2 linked regions of the Homo sapiens genome follow. The protein of the gene in region 2 interacts with the protein of the main gene of each other region in a pairwise test. Each region holds a gene or a part of one and is shown on either strand. Other genes may lie near its edges.

Evidence for each region.
Region 1: the proteins of SLC18A2 (region 2) and SLC7A1 interact in binary tests that used the Homo sapiens proteins (3 or more experiments, as listed by UniProt).

What each region holds. Positions count from the first base shown.
Region 1 is NC_000013.11:29,513,723-29,525,342, forward strand, and holds part of SLC7A1 (high affinity cationic amino acid transporter 1), read right to left. Parts: intron 10,532-11,620; coding exon 10,410-10,531; intron 9,767-10,409; coding exon 9,544-9,766; intron 8,735-9,543; coding exon 8,595-8,734; intron 5,828-8,594; coding exon 5,725-5,827; intron 4,069-5,724; coding exon 3,851-4,068; intron 3,589-3,850; coding exon 3,422-3,588; intron 2,525-3,421; coding exon 2,416-2,524; intron 862-2,415; coding exon 758-861; 3' UTR 1-757. UniProt on the Homo sapiens protein: High-affinity, low capacity permease involved in the transport of the cationic amino acids (arginine, lysine and ornithine) in non-hepatic tissues.
Region 2 is NC_000010.11:117,241,754-117,253,373, reverse strand, and holds part of SLC18A2 (synaptic vesicular amine transporter), read right to left. Parts: coding exon 11,560-11,620; intron 11,490-11,559; exon of another isoform or gene 11,377-11,489; intron 9,404-11,376; coding exon 9,061-9,403; intron 1-9,060. UniProt on the Homo sapiens protein: Electrogenic antiporter that exchanges one cationic monoamine with two intravesicular protons across the membrane of secretory and synaptic vesicles.

The sequences.
Region 1 (11,620 bases), on a different chromosome or scaffold from region 2:
GTGAGCTGAAGGTCCCTGGTTTACATGCATGTGCACACACATGCATAAGCAAAGCAGGCCCTAATGGGAGTGATCCCTTCTTCCTCATTTGAGTGGAGCCAGCTGCCCTCAGCCCCGGGCAGCTGTCATGGTGTCAGAGCAAAGCCCTGAGAAGCCAAGGGGCAGGCAGGGTCCGGCCCTAATGACCCATCTGAATGCAACCGGAGAAGGACAACAGGCCTGATTTTCCTTTTTAAGTGCACTACTGTCATTTGGCTCTGGGGTGGGGAGCTGCTGGGGACACACTGTTTTGTGGTACTCATCTGGCTTGATTGCTGGGTGTCTGGGGCTGAGCGGGAAGATGGCTGCGAAAGTTTGGAGTATGCACAATTTCAATCCCAGAACAGTCCCCGGGAGGAAGGCCTGGTTCCCAAGATAAGGAGAGAAGGTGACCTCCGTTCTGCCTGAGGCTGCGGCAGCTCGGGGCTGAGCTGGTAGGGGAGGAACTGCTTTGTTCAGAGAAGTGAGGAGACACAGTGGCCAGCCGCAGCCTAGTGGCCCCGGCCAGGCAGCTGTCTGGAGGTGACCAGGGCCCGGAGAACCGGCTGCAGAGCCGAGGGTGGGCTGGGGCTGCAGGTCAAGTAATTGCACCTTTGGCTGCAGTGAGGGTGTGGACGCAGGTGGTTTCTGTTGCACTGGTGGGGAGGGTGGGGTGCCTCCCGGTCCTCTGGGGGCGTCCCTCGGGGCTGCTGCCACCTCCGGGGGGCGGGGCTGTGCGTCACTTGCACTGGTCCAAGTTGCCGTCAGGAGTCCTTGCTTGGTCGGCATCCAGGGACGCCTCCTCGCTGTGCCACAGGCCATAGCCAAAGTAGATGATGAAGCCTGCGGGCCGACAGCAGAGACGGGCGTGAACAGACCGCCGGTTGCACCACCGCAGGCAGGGCTCAGAGCCCAGGGCGGTCCCACAGCAAACCCTCTCAGGCGGCCTGCCCCTGCCTGGCATGAGCCCGCAGCCAGCGGCCCCTGTGACCTTTCCACATCTGGAGCAGCTGCCACACGAAGGCCACTGTCTGCTTCGACATCTGGCAAAGCCCTACGTTCCTCTGGACGGCCTTATGCTGCGGTGTTTCCTGAGCAGACAGAGCAGCTGGGCCAGGGCCACCAGAGGCCATCGGGTCCTTCAGCTTAGCCCCCTGATGCCCCCGGAGGCCACGAGAGTATCGAGAATGTGCACTATGGAGATGGGGTTTCCCGCAGGTGCTGGAGGTCTCCAGGCTCTCAGCCTGGACAGTCCCACTGCCCATTTCTCCACATAACTGAGCGTCAGACTGCAGGAGACACTGAGCCCCAGGAATGGACTTCACATAGGAGTCCACAGCCTGTTCCTGCACACGGGACTCCAGGGTGGGTCCAGGACCTATGCTTCTTACCACCTGCCCAGGGGCTGGGGCCACCTTGTGTGGCTGACACAGGAAAACAGGCCTTAAAGCAAGGACTCAGCCACCCACAGCCCAGGAAAGGAGCTCAGGCTCCTGCACACAGGGACTTTGACAGGGATGCTGGGAAGAGGCGCCCCTCTGCCTTCACCAGGCCTGGAGGAAGTGGCCAGTGAGCTGTGAGCAGCTTTTTCTCAGAAAGGCTCTAGGAGACGTCTGTCTAACAGGCTGGACTTTGCAGGGAATGAGGACCCACCCGGCTGCCAGCAGACAGTGGGCCGCAAAGTATTTCCTGGAGGAAAAGCACCCCTCGAGGGCCCTGGGAGATGAGGCAGCAGCCATCTGCCCGTAGCATGCAAACTCAGGGCTGCGAGGCTGTAGGGACATGGTCCTGAGGGGCAATGGCCAGGGCCACTTTCCTGGCTATCAGCACTATGACTCAGATGCTGAGGGGAAGGAAATGAGATCCTCCCCTCCAGCCCCTGGGGTGAGATGCCCAGAGGCGTGGGACTACAGGCTGCACCCACCCCTGGTGATCTATCTCATGTGGAAGCTCCCCACCCTAGTGGCATCTCCCATAGGCTCCAAAGCACTCTCCCTCCACAGAGAAGACGCAATCACAGAGGAGCCCATGACATCCACCCTGCCTGGGCCTAGTGCCCGTACCAATTTGGTGCTGGGCAGGCCAGGGGGCCAGGAGGCACAGGCCAGACTTTCCTGTCTGGGGTGAAAATAACTGGTACCTTATCTGCAGCAGACTCATCACCTTGTTCCTGTTAATATCAAGGTCTTGCCCAAAAGAATAAATAGTTTGGACAAGAAGCAATGGAAACAAAAAGTATCTAACAGGGAGGAGAGGACTCACAGCCTACCAGGGATTCAGCATTATCTTCGAGAAAGCTGCTGACTGGATGTGCGTCATTCTGTTATGAAATCTGAAACAAGGGAGACCCCCAGGGGAAGCCAGGATCTTGGACGTGCTGGCAGCAGCATCACATACCTATCAGCATCCACACAGCAAACCGGACCCAGGTGCCCTGGTCCAGCTGCATCATGAGATAGACGTTCACGAAGATGCTCAGGATGGGGAGCACTGGCAGGAAGGGAACCTGAAGAGACAGGAGGTGGCTTCAATCCATGGCAGTGGCGCCGGTTCCAATAGTTCAGTAAAACTGTCTAGTAAAGGCAGCACAACTGAGAGTGACAGGGACCGTCGGGCGAGTGTGGGGAAGAGAGAGGGAGTGCCCACCCCCACTCCCACACCCCACACACAGCCCGCACCCAAACACACACACAAACACACCCAAGGGTACATCTTAGTAGGTGGGGATTTGATTCTAAGCTCTGAATGGCCAAATGAACTCCATTCTCATTTTTCTCTGTTGCGATTCTCCTGCTAAAGAAAGGACTAGAAGACGGACCTCCACTTTACCTCTAAGGTCAACAACCTTTTTTATTATTTGTGTAATCTAAAAATGCAGAAGCCTTGCCCGTCTCCAAGGCTTGGAAAACTCATGCATCAACTTGAGCAGACATTTACGAGAAGCATCCCACCACCCCGGAGGGACTGCTCCACTGGGTCTGCTATTATGTATAAACTTAGGGGCAAGTGGCTTCATGAGCAGCACCCTTGATACTGTCTGGGGAAGAGGCAGCACATTTCATAAAACACTGATCACAAGGGACATTTATTTTCCAGAGAATTCAGAAATAGATGCCGAATATCCAGGGACTGGCGAGGTCTCTCTTGGCCTGTGTCATGCAGGAAGGTGTCAGCCTGCCCTTGACTACTCAGGGAAACGTCCAGGGGAGAAGGGCTGCTGCCTCCTTCCAGGGTCTGGTCCTCTCTGTGCCTTCAGGACCCCTGCCCCATCTTACCTGAAGCTGGCTAGCAAAAACCTTCCTCGGGAGCACCCAGGCCCGGCTGAGCCCACGCAGGGCTGGCCAGGCATCAGGAGGGCCAGGGTCTGTGTACCAGGGTTCCTTCCCTAGGCCGAGCTGCTCACCTTAAATGAGAGCTTGGTCTTGCTCTCGGGCTGCCTCCAGATGACGCCCGTGACCACGGCACAGAGGAGGGCAGACCCTGCGAGCAGAAAGACTGCCCACAGCGCCCCTTTGGTGAGAGCCTCCCTTCCAAGCACGGTCACAATGCAGAAGGTGATGATGAGAACAGCTAAGGGGGAAGGAAAAGACAGCAAGCTGCAACTCAACCATTTCCCAATTTCCCACAGGCATCCACTGTTCTCCCCTAAACTTGTGGAGAGAGAGGCTCCATTTCCGAAGGCACAACTACAGTTAACACAGAGTAACTATGTCCCAGTCCAGGAGCAAGACAGATGCTCATCTTCTCTGGCACCTTCCCCCAACTCCAGCTCCACTGCCTAGAAACCATGCAATGCCAACAAGCAAGGCCCCAGGGAAGGGCTAGCTCTTACCTATGAGGCTGGTTGAAATGTTCACAATTAGCCCAGAGATTTTGGAAGGCTCCATGTTTTTGGGTGAGAGTATGGTTTTCAAAGAGAACATCTCTGCCTCTGGTAAAAAGCCCAGCTGGGAATCATTGGTGCTTGCCAATTCATTTTGGTCTGCTGGATCTAACTCGTCGGAAGTACTGGCCATCTGGTATACCAGGTTAGGCTGCTCTGGCTGGTACCTGGGAAGAAAGGCATTGCGTGACCGCCACATCTGCTTCAAGCAAAATGACGTGCACCAACTCAAGTTCTCAATAAGCCTCCAAAGTGAGCTGCCCGGGACACAAGGTATAAAATGGGAAGGATATAGTCAAATGCTGCATTGTAGATAGACGAGGAGAGACCGGGAACACCACCTCCCGCTGTTGCTTCTGGGGAACATCCTCCATGGTCTCTCCTTCGGGGCGACATGACCTCCACCATGAGCAGCCCAGAGGAATACCCTGAGAGGATCTCTCTTGCTCTGAGAAGTGGCAGCGGCCCTCAGATGCTAAAGATACTAGGCCACTTCCCACAAAATTACTGCTGTAGGGAGCAAAAGGGAAGGAGAGAAATAGGAAGCAGTAATGCCAGGATCCTATTTGGCACAGAGAGCCAGAGAAATGTGGCTGCAGGCTAGATGGATTTGAGAAATTCTATTTGTGTGACTTAATTGGATCAATTTATTTTAAAACTCCAAGTACCTTAGGGTAAATAATTCTATGTGGCTTGTTGGAGGGCCGAGCCTGCAGCGTGATTTCCAAGACATGAGCTACCTGCTAGTGGAGCATCCATTCTGAATGAGGTGCCTTATCTTCCCACCCGAAATGAACAGAGTGCAAATCTTTTCCACCAGCTTTGAAACACAGAGTTCTGTATGAATTATTTTGCATATGATCAATTCTAAGAGGGAGTATAAAGATATTAACCATTTTTGTATGGATTCACTTGTGCAACCCCACTCGGTCAATTAAGAAAGTGGGAGACCTCAGAGAATATTCTAGCATTGGGCCCCTTGGGAGGAATAAGGGGTCCCCAATAGTCTTAGCTGATTCTAAAGAGCTTCTGCTAAGGCTCAGCCCGGGTTTTATGTGCATCAGCTGCTGAACACCTTGGAAATGCAATCAATGGCCTTGCAGGTGGGAATCCCTGAAAAGAAATGAGGAGGCTCTTGAGGGGAGACCAGTGCTGAGCGTCTCCATGAGCACAGGTTCTCAGGATGGAAGCTGCGCAGGGATGTGCTTTGGGAGTGGGTGCTGAGGCAGGTGAGAACACCGAGACACCAAGCCTAGGCCCAGAGCAGCTTTACTGTGACTGGGAGAGGCTTGCCTGGCCCCCACCAGGCTATAACAAGCTGACTCCACAGTGTCTCTGAACATCAACCTAGGGCACGCCATGCCACATAATGGGATTCATTCCTCCAGCCACAGCGCAACGAAGCTGCAGAAGCATTATGCTGAGCTGGGTTTCACAGGCCTTGGGTTTTCCTAACTCCTACCAGGGCAGCCCTCAATCCTCTCTGTCCCAAGAATCTGAACCAAGTTGCAATCAGTCTTCAAACCTTCTGATCCCAGGATCCTGGCCTAATAGTTGGACCGAGAATCTGTCTCTATCCACCCAACATTTAGCCATAAAAATGAGGGCACATGATAGAGGGGGGTGAGGGGCCACCCAACTCTTGCCAAGGACGTCCTCCTAACTGGGCTCTCAACCCAGGTCCTCCCCTCTCCTTGGCAGCTCCCAATGGAGCTATCACCAACCTAAAAGTTTCATTCATCACATAAACCATAGCTGAACTGTGAAAAGGCTACCAGGTGCATCTGCATTTCTGTCATGAGACCCCCAAAAGCCATACATACCGTAAGACCAACACACAGGCAGCCACCAACGAGTAAGCCAGGAGAGTGCCAATGGACATGAGGTCCACCAAGTCCTTCAGGTCAAAGAGGAAGGCCATCACAGCTGGGAAGAGACAGACACCAGGATCTGTGGAGGGCCATCTGCATGCAATGACAACCAGGACCACCACTGCCGCCCACCATCCAGGGCAGCGAAGGGGGCTGCTTTTACTCCCACCCCCTCCCTGGCCTTCCCATGGAAAGACACAGCTTAAAGGGAAGTCAAGCTTCCCTTTAAGCTTGTGATTAAATCACAGACACAGTCCTCAACAGACAGTAATCATCATTAACATTTGTATAGAGAATCCCTTCATTCTTGTGATTTTAATGGCAACTTTGTAAGCCATCCCTACATTATAGATATAAACATTCACAAAGGTTAGGAGACTCATCTAAGGTCACACAGTTCACAAGCATAGGGTATAAGGATGTGAACTGGGTTCTTATGACTCTGAGTCCTGTGTGTCTTCCTCTAGACCATGCTGATTCACAGACTCATGTGCATCCATCCATCATCCATCCTATCGGTCCATCCATTCTCCATCAATCCATCTGTCCACCTATCTTCCATTCATCCACTCACCATCCATCCATCAATCCATCTCATCCATCTGCCCATCTCCCATCCATCTCATCCATCTATCTATCCATCCATCCATTCATCCATCCGATCCACCCATCCATCCATTCAGCATCTATCCATCTACCCATCTTCCATCCATCCAGCTCCGGTCAGAGTGTGCCCATCATTGGGTTCTAGGTACTCACTATTGAACAGGGCAGACCACAGTCCCCAGCCTTCCTGAGTGTACCCCACCAAGACACAGGCATTAGTGGACAACAGTGCTGGGTGATAAAGAAGGGCAAGTCTGGTGCTCTGGGAGGACTCACAGGAGGTCCTAACCCAGGCAGGCGGGCAGGAGAGCAGAGTTCTTCACATGTGAAGTCACTTCACGTGGAAGAAATCTGAAGAGTTGTTCTCAAACAATATAGTATCAGCCCCTTCACTGTGTCCCTTGCCTTTAAAATGAATTAAAACCTGCACCCTTATTTGAACATCTTTTGTGAGCGTTGTGAGAGTATACGTGTCTATTCACATGGGTGTGTATGTCAAGTACTCATTAAAAAACAACTTGGCTACATCTGCTTTGGGATATTTTCAAAACACATGCAATCAACACAAGCTAAAATATAAACACAAAGCCATTATTTTTCCACAAATATCTCTCAAGCCCCTCTAGATCACTGCAACTAAAACAAATTTAAATGGAGAATAAAACACAAAATTAAAGAGCAATGAGGGAGGGCCTTTTGGATAATCAGAACAGCGCCCAACTGTGCATGCCACAAATGCCGATGTTCCTACTCACGGGAAACTTGAGACTAATTTCTTCCATGTGAGGTGATTTTAGAAAACCAAATACTTATTTACCACTCCCACCAAATGAAAAGGGTAAATCCTGGATTTTGTGAATGGCATGTACTTTACAGTCACTTCAAAGAGCATGATTTGATCTCCCTCTATCAGCAGGGGAAGGAAATTAAGGCCAGTCTTTAATATGATCAAATTCCACGTAAAGCCTGAGAAAACAATGACTATTTCCAAGTCCTTAATCCTGTAAATATACTGGTCACATTCTGATGTATAGTGCCTCTCAATCTGACCACTGTGGTCACTCTCAAGAGCATAGAATCACATAAGAAAATGTTTCATAATTTAAAAATAGGTGTGTTTTATTATACAATATTAATCCACAAAACTAAGCACAGTTTGCTAAAGGCATAAATGCTAATAAAACTTAGTGAATAATTCATTCATTTAAGAAGGTCAAGTGCCTTACCAATGGCTATTTGACAAGTCGCTGTGTTAGAAACTGTGACTGATCTCACATGCCCTAATTTGCCAAAAAGACCCACTGCTCTGCTCAGACTCTGGAAGGAGCTTGGCTACTTTGGCATAAAAACAACCCTGGAATCACAAGGCCGCTCCACCGCCCTGGGTGCACATCCTCGCTTCACCTCCCTGGGCCTCCACTTCTACATCTGTACAGTGGGCTGACGTCTGCCTTTTGGGGCTACGAAATGCAATTGCGAAAGGGGCGGGCGTCTGCCTCTCGGGGCTATGAAATGCAATCGCGAAAGGAGGAGACATAGACCACAGGTACAGTGTGCACACGAGCTTCCTTGTAGGTTCTCCTTTCCTTCATCTGGGGCCCTGGAACACCTACACGGCTCAGATTAGTCCACTGATTTCATCCATCAAAATGGTCCTCTCAGCGATGAGGCTCATCTGACAAGATGAAACTCCACTGGGTCTGCTATTACGTATAAACTTAGGGGCAAGTGGCTTCATCAGCAGCACCCTTGATACTCTCTGGGGAAGAGGCGGCACATTTCATAAAACACTGATCATAAGGGACACTTGTTTTCCAGAGAATTCAGAAATGGACGCCGAATTTCCAGGTACTGGCGAGGTCTCCCTTGGCCTGTGTCATGCAGGAAGGTGTCAGCCTGCCCTTGACTACTCAGGGAAACGTCCAGAAATGGGGAGAAAAGGTTTTCGAATACTGTGTGTTCTAAGCTCCGCCCATTGAGATGAAAACCAGAGTGCAAACTGTTCAAAAATTCTCTCCCATCCTCTGTCAAACGGGCCTCTGCCTTTTGTCAAAAGGTCAGTCAACTTTCAATGAACCAGGCTCCAAGTATAAAAACCAGGAGTTAAAAAGACCAGTTAAGATTACTCACAGACCAGAACTGCGCAAGACGTCTCCCTAGGGAGTAATGACTCCATTGTTAAAACATTTCCATGTGAAATGAGTTCTAGTACTCACCAGCAACGGCACCCGAGGCTAATGTGGCGATTATTGGTGTTTTGGTCCTATCATTGACGTTGGCTAAGAATTTAAATAGCAGTCCATCCTCAGCCATGGCATAGATAACCCGAGGCATGGGAAACATGGAACCTAGAAGACTAGATGGGGAGAGGCAAACCGCGTGAGTGAACCTGGCTCATAAGGGATAAAGGCACCACATCCAGCCATGCTCGGTTTACCACGGAGGAGAGGGAGTCTGAGCTCACCAAGAGCTGCCGTCCCTCCACGCTGGGTGAGGCCTGTGGCTAAAAGACTTGGCATTTAATAAATCAATCCCAGAAAGAGCACACACTGTGAATAAGGATTAAGGTAAAGAATAGGGAACATCTATCTAACATACACTAGCATGAGACCCAGTACAGTCTTTACAGATGGAAAACTGTATTTATTCCTGCAATTATTTCTAGCTGAATCAAACAGAAAATACAAGCATCACTGCATTCATGAAGATTTCCCTGTGGTAAATCAATATTTACCAAATAGCTCTGTTTATACAGGCTAAGAGGAAATACGATTGGTGAAAATGTTTCTCATTAAAAGGCACTTATTCCCTTCATCAAAGTAGCTTCTGCATGACAGCTAAACTGAGGGCCAAAATATGGTGTTCAAACAGCGGGCCTGTTCCAGTGGCCAGATTTAGGGACAGAGAACCAGTCCCTTGCTAAGCAGATGATGCTGAAAAGCCAGCCTCAGGTTCTTCTCAATAACACAACTCTTGGGATGATGAATACTGGCCAACAAGGGAAAAGCCACATGATCAAAGCTGGGTTGGGTACTGGGTCTATTTCAAGGGTAAAGAATGCTGGCAGCCGATGTGTGTCTCGCATGGCTGTACCTGGCCTGCTATAGCCTAACCCCTGCTGGTGGTTCCACCCCTAGGAGCAGCCACCACAGAAAGGCCTCTCACCTGGCGGAAAGAGCGCAGAGGGAGCCCACGGCCACTGCGTACTTGGCACCTTCCCAGCCCACGTGCTTAAAGGCGTCGGGCAGGGGGCTGTTATTGTCCAGGCAGAAGTAGGGCATCATGAGCGTGAGGGCAGCCGACACCCCAAAGTAGGCGATGAAGCAGATCAAGAGGGACGCCACGATCCCCACGGGGATGGCCTTCTGTGGGTTCTTCACCTCTTCACCTAGAAGCACAAGGGGTCAGCGGAGGAGGGCACACAGCAAGAGGCAGTGTATCTGCCCACATGACACCCAAGGCCTCTCAGTGCCCCGGAACCCACGTGACCCTACGAGAAACCTCCCTCCAGCACTCAGCCCTGTGGGCACTGGGGCCTCCTGTGCTTCCGGGAGCAGAGGGGTGGTGCTCAGGAAGACACATCAGACAGCCCATGGCCCTGCAACAGTGTTCTCGGCCTGAATGTGGTGATGCAGCCAAGGAAGAGACTTGTTTCCTTTGGCAGAGAAAATCTGGGAGGCTCACTGAAGCCTGGCCTATTCAGTCCGCCAGGATGACAATGTTGTGAATAGCCTCACTCCTCCCGGAAGACGCTCAGATATGAAATCAGGCCACAGCCACACAGCTATGATCCCATTCTAACAGCGGAACCTTAGCCTTATTCAAGATCCAGCTTTCATCAGGTGTTGACAGTTGGGGATGTGATAATGGTTTGGGGGTGGGAGGGCTTGGCAGGAAGCTACAAATCTACATGTTGCTCATGTGTGAAAGAGCGGCGACTGGACCGTGCCAGCAAGGAGGGAAATGGCAAGCATTGGCTTGTTTGCCCAGGGTGCAGGAGGACCCGGGACCGCAGTGGCTGGCGGACATACCTGTGGTGGCGATGCAGTCAAAGCCCACGAAGGCATAGAAGCAAGTCGCTGCCCCCGACAGGACACCAGAGAACCCGAAGGGCATGAATCCACCAACACCGGGCTTCCCTTCTTTTGTGTCACTAGAAAAAAGAGCCGCAAACAAATGTCACGTCACTCGCTGCGCAGTCTGGCGTAAGGAGCTGTGCTCATCTCCTGATATGAGCGGAACCTGGCAGTCAGCCCTCCCTGTTACCGCTGCCAGGCCCTGGGCTTCAGACGCTGAGTCCAGCCACTGCATGCTAACTCCGTGTGTGCAGGCCTCCCTGCTGTTCGTGGCCCAGGGTCACAAGGGTGCAGAGTATCGCCCCTTCCAGAAGCATCTTCTAAACAATGACTAGGGTAGGGAGACGTGGGGACTATGAGGCAGGGGTCCAACAGGAAATGGGGGAGAAACCAGCCACGCGGCCAGTCCCACACCCTTCTCCCCAGGGCCCCTCGGAGGAAGGATGCAGAGCCGCCAGCCAGTCCTACCCCGGGTCCCATATTTACCAGTAACTCAATCTCAAAACAAACAATTCCAGAGAAACTAAGGCTAAAATAAAAGTCTTTGTCAGCAAAGGCATTCCTTAACTGCCTGTATGCACAAGGTGGAGTCCAGGAGGGCGCAGCTTTTGCCAGGTGTGTGGGGCCCGGGCACAGCTGGGCACTGGCCCACGGGAGGGGCTCAGCACATCTTTGCTACACTGATGAACGCAAAAGCAAAATAAGCACAGTTTACAAACTCAGGAGTCCAGAAGAAGCAGGCTGCTTAAACATTCAGAAAACAGTCCCATAAATCTGACACCTGTGCCGAGACACGGTGCCCAGGTTCAGTGTGGCGCTATGGCCCCTCCCAGGGCCCTGTCGGGGGTCCTTCAAGCCCTTGTTCCCTGATGTACAAAGCCCTGGCCTGTCCCCCCACATGCTGTGTTCTGGGGGTGCACCATGCAGTCAGTGCAGGCGGCTTCCCTGGCCACTGTCCCCTGGTCAGGAGGCACATAGCCCCTGCTGGTCACCAAGTAACCCTAAGCTTTCTGCATCCAACCCTCTGCTGCCACCCGAAAAGCAATTGCACTCCTTGTGGTTCAAGAAGGGCAGTCCCTACTCCCACACCTTTGCCAGCCCCAGGGCCGCAGGCTTTCTGTCCTGTGCCAGGGTCCCACTGGCTGGCCTGGAGCCCAAGAGGACGC
Region 2 (11,620 bases):
TCTGGTGACTGCAGGCTATTTTTTTAAGGCTTTATATTGATTTTCGCCTGGCTACCCTTTGGGATCAGACAGATAAGTGTTTGGTGGACTTTTCTGAAAATTCATATACTCAGTGCTTCCTATGTGACCTTTTTGTGTTTGACTGTCTTGGAACGTGAATACATTTATGGACTGCCACTGTGAACAGAAATTTGTTTGGAATAAATGTTAACACAATATTGGCAAGTAACCCAGAACACATCCAAAATACACGGCCCCTATTTCTGTCATTTTTAAAAAATGATTCCTTTAATTATAGTCTTTGCTAAAGCTCTCCCAAAGGAGCCACTGCAATCAAATGATTCGGGTAAAAGGCCATCAAGTGATTCCACTGGCAGACTGCAGTATGTCTAAGAGGCATTAGGAAGCAAGATGTTAAGATCTGCCTTCCTGTTGACCCCATGAGGCCAACCCAGAAAGACAAAGTCTCATTTTCTGTGCAAAATTTCAAAATCCAAATTGCTCCGTGAGACCACTGCTCACCTAGGACTCTGGCGCCAGGTCAACAGGGCTGGTGGAAAGACCCTGGCATTCCCCTATGCCATGTCTGGCTGGACACATGACCCTGCCACTTAATCTAGGGAGGTCTCCTCTCAGTCCCTCGGAGAGACCACCGCCCACCTCCCAGGACTGGAGTACAGAAAGAGATATGGATGTTAAACTGTTAACACCAGTGCCTAGAGCATAGAAGGTGCCTAAGAAATGTCATCTCCTCCCTCATTCTCTTTCTTCTTTGTCCTCTGTTTCTGCTGGATTAAGTAGACAGCTGGGTCCCTGCTCTGTGGGTGGGGCATGAGGGTACAGGCAGCTTCCCAGCCCCTCTGCCTTGAGAGGAAGCCAACAGTGGCTGAGCTCTTGCCCAATTGAAGGTTTGCTCCAACCCAGAAGAGCCTGAAACATCTCTAAGTCTCTTCTGTCTCTAGCTCTGGACCCTCAGGAACCTGGAGAGGAATGAAATGAATCCAGGAAGGCAGAAGGGCCAAGCATCCTGAGCTCTGGCAACAGCCTGGAAGGGTTCTTCCATTCCAGGCTTTAATAAAAAATTGTAATCGGCTGAGCATGATGGCTCATGCCTGTAATCCTGGCACTTTGGGAGGCCGAGGTGGGCGGATCACCTGAGCTCAGGAGTTCAAGACCAGCCTGGGCAACATGGCAAAACCCTGTCTGTACTAAAAAAAAAAAAAAAAAAAAAAAAAAAAATACAAAAAATGAGTCAGGCATAGTAGTGCACACCTGTAATCCCAACTACTTGGGAGGCTGAGGCACGAGAATTGCTTAAACCTAGAAGGCAGAGGATGTAGTGCGCTGAGATCATGCCACTGCACTCCAGCCTGGGTGACAGAGCGAGATTCTGTCTCAAAAGTAAATAAATAAATAAAAAATAATCATAGCGCCTTCATTTAAAGTTTACACTCAGTTCTCCAAGCATTTACACCCACCAGATTTAGTCATGATTTAATAAGGGCCCTATTTCACCTCCCTATGTTACAGATGAGGAAACTGAGGCATGATATCTGTCATTACTTATCAGATGTCATCAGACTAATTTCGCCTGGGCCATTCCCACATGGCTTTTCCTTGTAAATTTTACCACCTCCGCCAGTACCCAAACGGCATATATAGCTTTAAATAGAATCTTTCCAAAAGTTCTCTTGACCATATTCAAATATTTTTTAACTGCTTCACCTGTATCCAGAAACCAAATACCAAAAATACAGAGAGTAACTCACAAGCATGACAGATTCCCAGACAGTCAGTCCCCTCCCACAAACCATGCAAAGATTCCCCTGCTGTGAACAGAGATGAGCTTGTAATTCACAAAGTGGGGCCCCAAGCAAATTGGGTAAACCAGAGAAGATGCCAGGATTCTGACCTGCAGTTCAGATGGCCATCGGGTGACAGCTTCTTCTGTCTCAGCCCACCCAGAGCTGATTCTCTGTACCCCTTATTCATGTGGACAAAAGAAACCCAACACCGGGGGCTCACACGGCACTGCAGGATACTGAATCAGGAAACGTCCAGGAGGCTCAGAGAGGAGAACTCACAGGCAATTTATTTTCAGCAACTACAGTTTGTCCCATGAAAGAACGGGCATATGACAATCTTCCGGGCTGTCCTGGAATAAACACAGGCTTCTCCCTCTGTTCAATATATATTTGGAAAATCTAGTTGTTGAAGTACCAATACGTATCAAAGCTATTGGAATTAGGGGCTTCACTCTTGTTTCACCAGTTCTTCATTTTGGCTATTTATAAGGCTCTAATATGGAACCCTTCAGGCTGCAGGGACATCCCTGAAGGCAAATAAGACATCTGTGGCCCTTTCCCAGACTGTAGGCAGAAACACTGGGTGGTTTCAGGACAAAACTCAATAAAATGTGGCAACCCTTGTCTGTGGCCCCCAAACCACCAGCCATACTGTGCCCACTGTTCAGTCCAGCCAGTATTCCAGGTAACCCATCAGGGCACAGCTGTGGTGGGCTGGAAGCCACTGAGGTCCCTCCCTACCTGAAGACTCAGACATTCCCACGACTGTAGGCAGGGAACCAGCATGCTGGGTGGCCTGAGATTCCAAGGGAGGGTAGCTGGTTTTATCCATTTTTCAGAGGATCAACACTGAGGCTCGGGGAGGTGAATTACTTGCCCCAAATTCAAGGCTACGGGCATACCCTGAGTGTGTTAACATGTGCTAGGCCCTGCTGATGTGCACCTGGGTGGGGACGCTGGAGCACATGGGATGGAGAGTGCACAGTTTCACTGAAAACCACAGCGTTTGTGCCTACAGAGGGTTCTTTTTACCATTTGAGGTACTGTGTTTTCTTTAGAAACACTGCAGCTACTGTTTTTCTTTTTAATTTTCTTTGGGATTTTAACAATGCACGTATGGAATAAACGAATATCACAGCTAGAAGGAAACTCAAGGGCTAGCCAGTCCAAACCCTCACCTTAGATGAGAAAGCTGAGGTTCAGAGACAGAGTGGCTCACCCATGGCTGCAGAGCAAGCCAATGGCTTCAGATACAACCAGGCTCATGTTGCCGCCTCCTCAGTACCGGACACACCTGTGCCTGCACTTTCAACACAGGCCAAGCCACTGCATGGGCTGCTCAGTGGTAAGCGCTGGGCATCATTTTTCCCCAGAGCTCGGCTTCAAGGCAAAGAAGACTCCCTGGGAAGCTCCTGGGTCTCCGTTCTCAAACTCTTCTGGCCCCTCGGGCACCCACCATAGAAGGAGAGTCGTCCAGCGTCCCTAGTCATTGAGTGGTGGGCAGAAGGACCAAACCCTTTCTGCTTCCCCACAGTATCTCCTAAACAGACAGAAACTCAACTGACATTAGTCACAATCTGTGTCTGAGTTGCCCCCCTTGTCTCAATTCAGGGCCTTCTCAATTAAAGTATTGCTAAGCAGAGCCAGATCTGATTCAGCAAACCTTTAGCCAAATGTCATACTGGCCCACGGTCATCCTCTACAGAGCATCACGAAGCAGTTAATCCAATTTGAGTAAGACTAAAAATCACATAATGAATCCCTAGAAAAACATGTAAAACAATAAAAGTTATGTTAATTATATATACTTAGTCATTGGAGAAACCCCATCTGTCCCTAAATGGTCAATGAAGACAATACTTCTCTAGTGTTAATAATTAGCTTATCCTTGCCATAGAGACTAATGGAAGCTCTCTTCTCATGATTGCTAAAACCACAGTTTCCTCTACCGTGGTAAATTACAAGAAGCATACAGACTACAGAGCCCCGAAGGGTGCAAACTATCACCAGATGCAACGAGAGACAACAGCTCCCTTCCAGTGATCCCTACACACTCCTAAAAGGTGTGCAGTAAATGAATGTCAGTAAATGGAATGATATTTTCAATTTGCCTGGATATAGTAGGAGGTTTGTCAATCATTTAGTAAATAAAATTCTTCGATTCCGCTTGTCAAAATTCTTAGGTTCTGCTTGTCTTTTTCAGCTACCAGAGAATTCCAGGGGGCACGGACTTCTCACTTTCCTGGGCGTGAGCCCTGTTCTCTGACACATAGCTTAACAGAGCTTTTGCTTCTCCTAGGAATGTTCTAATTCCACAGCCAGTTTCCTCTGATTTCAGAAGCAAAGACTCATCAAGCCCTCCCTACCATCCTAACCACATGCAGGATGGGAGATCTCTTCTCAGAACAGCCGGTTTCCCTGTCCATAGAGAAGCTGAAAAGGTCACTGCTTGTTCCTACACAGCCCACTTCAGACCCACTGGCTGAAGCTAGCAAAAAAATAAAATAAAACCATGGTAGATTTCGTAGAGATTTCATGCCCTGTGGCTTCCTCCTTGTCGTTCAGATGTTAGCTAAGATTTGCAAGCAAAAAGAACTGCTTTCAAATATACTAAGTAACTATGGAAATAAATTAAGCCATTGACGCTGGCTTGATAAAAAGCAGATCACTGAGACAATGACAAGCTAAGAAGGAAGCAAGGGAAACGGTCCCCAGCAATGAAGTTAACTCTTTCCCAAGCCAGTCGTTTGGTGTGGAATATCTTTTGGTTCTGAAGATGCAACTATTATTTCAACCTTATGCTAAGCAAGACCACAATGCCATATCGTTACCTGACTGAGGGAAGAGAGAAATGTAAACGTGTTGTCCCATTGTTCATGTGCCTGGAACTTTCCTCTTATGGACATATATATCTAAAATTTGCTTCTTAGACCAAATGATGACCAAGTATCACTAGTATAATTTCTGGTACCACCTGCACACAACTGCAATCATGAAATGAATAGTTCAGCCAAAATTATAAAATAGGAGGCAAGAGGTTCCAACATGGAAATCAGGTCAATCCAGCAACCTCAGGCTTTCTTGGAAAGTGTGCTATTGGCCAGGTCATCACTACACACACCCAAATCAAAGGTTTTTGCCACCTAACTGGTCATATATTTTCAGCAGAAATACAGGATCTGAATAACAAATGAAACAGGAAGAATGTGCATCCTATTAGCAGTTAAATGAACCCAAGAATTGTTACTCTATATTTTCAGGGTTTGGTGTGAGAACTTATCGAATATTTAAAAAAAACAGACAGGGCCGGGCATGGTGGCTCACGCCTGTAATCCCAGCACTTTGAGAGGCTGAGGCAGGAGGATCACTTGAGGTCAGGAGTTCGAGATCAGCCTGGCCAAATGCTGAAACCCCATCTCTACTAAAATACAAAAAAAATTAGCCAGGCATGGTGGCATGTAGTCTCAGCTACTCAGGAGGCTGAGGCAGGAGAATTGCTTGAACCTGGGAGGTAGAGGTTGCAGTGAGCCGAGATAGCCCCACTGCACTCCAGCCTGGGCAATAGAGCAAGACCCTGTCTAAATAAATAAATAAATAAACAGGCGGCCTACATTTTGTGACTCCTACCCACAAAAGCCACACACATGGCACCATCACGACTGTGAATAGAGGATTCCAGTTATGGTGTGGTGTGGTGTAGAATGTCTCGATTCAGAGTGGGTCCCACTTCAGTTAAAACAAGCAGCTTTGGAAAAGAATAGCTCTGCCCAGCCTGACTACAGGAAGCTTTCCCCACACATCTTTAGGGATGCACGAGGCTGGACCAGTTCACATCAGGGACTGGAAAAAGACTGAATATTTCAGGGACCAGGGAGGTTCCATGTCCACAGGAATCAGGCTGATCTTTTCTAAACTCTCTGCTCATTGATTAAAAGTAGCAAAATCAGCAACTCACTGGGTCTCCAGCAGTTCTGCCTGGTACAACCAGGAAGAGCCCAAGTCAGTGCAAGAAAGACAGATTTTGAGCTGCATTCTTTATTTCTAGTAGCTAAAGGTACAAGCTGTATAATTGTAAGCAGGTGGGAAGAACAGGAAGCGGGGAAGAACAAAGCTTGAAATGGGACAGTCGGAACATGTGGCTACAGTCCTGCCACTGTTGTGGTAAATGCTTTCTCCTCCTGAACTGCAAACTCCTTTGCCTATAAAATGCTAGGACTGGCCCAAAAGCTTTCAGGAAAAGTCTCTGCAAGCTCTGATGCTCCATATTTTTAACTACTCTTTAATCAGAAACATATTAACCAATTTTAAAAAGCCTTTAAACACATTTGTTTACAACACTGAAGACTTGAGTCATACATCTTGCTCATGGAGGATGTGATTGGCACAGTTTACATCAAAAGACTGTTTGCAATGGCTCACAAGTTAACTCCTTGAAGACAATTAAAGGCAAATGGAATGCACATTTGTCCCTTCTCTGAATCCATCTGAACTGCGGTGGGAAGCAGAATCTTGGAGTGTCCAGAAGAGCTGCCCAGTCCCCAAATTCATATCTACTGGGCTTGGAAATTATGAGACAAATTACAAATCAGGATCACAATATGAAAATTTATTTGCTCGCTGAGGGCGGTGGCTCACGCCTGTAATCCCAGCACTTTGGGAGGCCGAGGTGGGCAGATCACCTGAGGTCAGGAGTTCGACACCAGCTTGGCCAACATGGTGAAACCTCGTCTCTACCAAAAAATACAAAAAATAGCCAGGCATAGTGGTGCACGCCTGTAATCCCAGCTACTGAGGAGACTGAGACATGTGAATTGCTTGAACCCAGGAGGTGGAGGTTGCAGTGAGCCAAGATCACACTGCTGCACTCCAGCCTGGGTGACAGAGCAAGACTCTATCTCAAAAAAAAAGAAAAAAAAATTTGTTTGTCCTTCCATATTACCAGGCAGCACTAGAAAATCATTTTCAAATTTGCTCGGTAGCTGGACAAAACAGTTGGGGATTACAATTTTGCTCTAGATAATTTCTAAAGTGGATTACTCACCATGAGAATAGACTAAATTTCACAAGTCACAAAATGGAAGATAATGTTTTTGAAGTCCCAAACATGAGCCTGGTGTGGCTACAGCCTCAAAGCCGTTGGAGTATTTAACAGGGGAAAGAGCTCACTGGTTTTAAACAAGCCTCTTCCCCATGGCATAAGCAAAGCATTAAAAATAAGAATGGGATTTTTAAAAAAGCTTTTCATTTGCCATTTGCGTTTGGAAGATTGGAGTACTCACATCATTTCAGCCGAATTTCTAAGTATTACACTGTACGGCTAGTAACGTTCCACCCAAGTGATTGGCAAGGTATTATTACGATAATGTCCTCAATTTTCACATACAATATTTGAGCTGTTTGCTTTCTCAGAATACAAAACCCTGAGCTATTTTCTGTAATTATACCAGATGCATTTTAAGAAGCATTCTTAGTCTTGAAAAAAGGAAAGAAAACAATCCTGCAACTACTGAGGTCGGTTTGGTTTTTCTCCTGAGAACAGAGGAGTCACTGAATGTCACCTTCTTAATGGGCTCACAGTCAGCCCTTCGCTGGGTTAATTTGCTTAGCATGTTTTATGTAGCAGCCTTAGAATATTGCTCTGCACAGACTAGAGGGCTGGACATGGCTTGAGATTGTTGAAATCAATTCAATGGCACCCTTCCATCCAGAAAATTCAACTGCAGATGTTGAGAATGTGCTCCTGTCCGACTCAAGCTCCATGTGTCCAAGGCAGCTTGTGCTGGCGGAAGGCCAGATCTGCCATCCCCTCCTTGAGCCCCAGCCACCACCCCAGGCTTCCTCACCTCTCGGTGCCCCTAACCCTAGAGTCGCACAGGGCTCTGCTCTCAGAGCTTGGTTGATTTAATGCTCTGCTGCCACCTTGAAGTGTTTCATAATGTTTGAATGTGGGGCACACATTTTCATTTTGCACCGAGACCCACAAATTATGCAGCCAGTCCTGCGCCCCACTCCCCACGCCAAAGGCAGAGGAAATGTGAAGTTCTCCCTGCTCCCTGCCCACCTACCCTGCTTAAAATAGTGCTTGATTCACTCATTTCTTTTTGGCTTTGGAATTTCTAATGGCTCCCAACTGCCCCACACAGAATCCCACTCCTTTCTCAGCCCAGCACTTGGGGCCTCTTACAGCCTAGCCCAGCCCTGGTTTCCCCTGCCTCCTTAGTTCCACCCTCTCCTCGCCACCATCTCTTCCATCTCTAGTCTAGTCTTTGTTCCTGCTTCTGGGCCTGGTCTGCAGGTAGGACTCTGGGCACACCCCTCCCCACCATTTCTGGTGTTTTGTAACTTTCACCTAGGTAGCTACACTGCGCACTTGGCAGCCCACCACCAACACTTAACTGTACCAGCTCCCACTCCTTGCACTGACACCTTGGGGGCCTGCCTCCTCCTCTCAGCTGCAAGGCCCTTGTCCTGAGCTTTGAGCCCCCACGGACCAGGCAGAACTGGTCCACCTCAGCTACAGAAGAACAAACACTTCACCAACAATGGAGAAGTAAACAGTTATTCCAAACAATGTGGGTTCAAAAAAATCTAGAACAGCCTGATTCATCTGAAGCTAGTTTGGGCAGCTTGGATTATCCAGACAACAGCCTCAGTTCTCTTCCTTTCATGCACGTGGACGTGGCTACGTAGCCAGCAGAAGGGAAGAACACAGCCCATGACCTCGGCATCAACTCGGAGCTCCATCTGCGCACCAGTGCGTCCAACCTTTTCCCACACTCCCTACCTGGTATCTGTGAGAGGCTTTAACATGCCAGTTCCAAAAGAAGACACCTTGGCTCTCTACAGAGAAGTGCATGGCCTGAGGTAGGAGATAAGAGGAGGCCACATGGCTCATAAAATAGGATGACAGCCATGGTGGCTGTAGAGTTCCTGCTGCCAAGGGCGATTCTGACAAATGCACTTACGAAACCTGGCATTTAGACAGGCCAAAGTCCTCCCACTTGGTGGAAGAGGTCCTCTTTATTCTGTCTTCTTTAATATTTTCTTACTTGTTGAGCAACAGAAGGGAGAATAGAATAGGAAATTGTGGTTATCTGGGAACAGAGACATAGGGGAAGGGGACTGGGTTTTCCCCAGCTCACCCACCATGGATTTTCCAGACTCTCACCAATGAGTAAGAAGCAGAATTCCAGGAAGGACATAAGCTAGGACTGATACAAATATCAAACTCTTTGACTAAAGTAGTCTGCCCTACCTGTTGGTCAGTAGTCCTATGAAAGGGTTGGTGATGAGCTGGACGGTGGCTTTCGAGGCAAACAACAGACCAACTTGCACGTTTTCATTCAGGAGGTCTTTGTCTTCACTGGGACAGTCGGAAGGAACAGCGGACGCGTTGGTCACCATGTGCTGTGTGGCGGTCTGATGAAGTGTCAGGTCTCTGGTAGCATTCCCGGTGACCATAGTCGAGTTATCATAATAGGAGAAGATGCTCTGGAAGCTGTCTGAGATGGAGGCAGTGTGCACTGGCCTGGCCGTCTGGATTTCTGTAGCATTCTTCTCATGCTTAATGCTGTACAGATAACTTGGGATGATGGGGACTGGGGATAAGAGCAGAATGGCAAGGTGGTGATCACACTGAAACCCTCTCCAGGAAAAAAGCCAGCAAAAAACTATGGTTGTGTCGGCAGGGAGCAGTGGCTCACACCTGTAATTCCAGGACTTTGGGAAGCTGAGGCAGGTGGATCACCTGAGGTCAGGAGTTCGAGACCAGGCTGGCCAACATGGAGAAACCCTCTCTCTACTAAAAATACAAAAATTAGCTGGGCGTGGTGGCACCCACCTGTAATCCCAGCTCCTTTGGAGGCTGAGAAAGGAGGATCGCTTGAACCTGGGAGGTGGAAGTTGCAGTGAGCAAAGATTGCACCACTGCACTCCAGCCTGGGTGACAGAGTGAGACTCTGTCTCAAACAAACAAAACAACAATAACAACAACAAAACTATGGTTGTGTCAAATGCCAGAAGAGGTCCAGAGGGTGACAGGTCTACCCCAAAACAGGAGCCCTGTGCCATATGTCTATAACGACATTGGAGCAAGTTCACTTTACTTAGCTCACTAGAAAGAACCATGCCCCCAACGGCCCTGAGAACTGTCTCCTCTCAAAAGGCAGCTGCTGTGCTGAACTGACTGGTCCCAGAGATTCTGTCATTTGTGGGTTTCTTCCACATTGTTCCTTCAAGGAATATTTCAGAAAAGCAAAATGTGGCCTGACGTTAAGAGAGTGCTGACCTGGAGTCAACCAGTGCTTCTAAGAAAGAGAGGCTCAAAAGACTTTCAAATGAATGAATCAAGGAAACAGAAAACTACACTTCATTATGTGTCTTAGAAAAAAATTAACCTGCAGGAAGTAATAACTTGGAAATTCTGCAACAGGCCCACTTCATCCTTCTATTATGAGTGGGAATCTGTAATTTTTCCTACAACTTGTAAGATTTAAGAATTCCTAAGGCTTTCACAAGGAAAAAGCAAAACTGAAACAGGCCAGGCACGGTGGCTCAGGCCTGTAATCCCAGCATTTTGGGAGGTCGAGGCGGGTAGATCACCTGAGGTCAGGAGTTCAAGACCAGCCTGGCCAACATGGCAAAATCCTGTCTCTAATAAAAATACAAAAATTAGCCAGCTTTGGTGGGGCATGCCGGTAACCCAGCTACTCGGGAGGCTAATGCAGGAGAATCACTTGAACCCGGGAGGTGGAGGTTGCAGTGAGCCAAGACTGTGCCACTGCCCTCCAGCCTGGGCAACAGAGTGAGACTCCATTTCAAAAAAACAAACAAAAACCAAAATAAAAAGCAACAACAAAAAATACAAATTAAATTGTGAAACATATAATCGAAGCTGTGAGCACATGTGTCCAATGGAGCATTCGAGCCGAAGCAGAACTAATGCCGTTGGTACTGAACAGGGATGAGCTCCACGGCTCTGATAACTCCTCGAGATGAAACCTATCAGATGCTCTGAAAACTGCTGTGAGAAAACCTGCAAATGGAGAGAAAGGAAACAGCTCCCACCACTTACAGTCTAAATGAGTCGTGATTTTTTTTTCATTCATTAAAAACTGGGATTTTTTTTTTTAAGGAAATGCATGCCAAATACTTCTCTGTTAATGGGCCTAATTAAGGGACCTGGATTTCGATTATTTAATTTTTCAAAATTCCACTATAGGAAAAATAATAGAACCAAGATTGTTCAAATTGTTCTTGCAATGGTTCCTGAAATATTTCCATCTCAAGTCATTCACTAATACAGTATATCTAAATGTCTTGTTTTTGGAGTAAGGGATCGAAACTTGCTCTTTTAGGTACTACACCAAATTACTAACCTGCCTTTTCGAGTAGCCCAATAATTATTCTAACACGTAATTTTGAACTTTAGGAATTTCTCTTTTGGAACAGAAATCTTTTTCATCGCAGTGAAAGCAGGCAAGAGGATGCGGGAAATTATCAGGGGGAAACATAAGTTCTGGGTCTTATCGGATGTCACAGTTTTTGACCCGAGCATCAGGAAAGCGAAGCCACACAACGCGGCTCCTCCTAGCCCCGGCGCGGCAGCCTGGAGGGGATGTCTTTTTTGCAAAGCGAGTTCTCCAACTTTCCCGGGCCTTGGCGGAGCTCCGGGACCGCGCAGGGGTAAGTGGAGTGCCGGGGAAGGGGCGCTGGGGCTGGGGTGCCGGGGCAGGGGTGCCCTGTCCGCACGTACCCACGACAGTGAGCAGCATGTTGTCCAGCAGCAGCGCCAGGAACACGATGAACAGGATGAG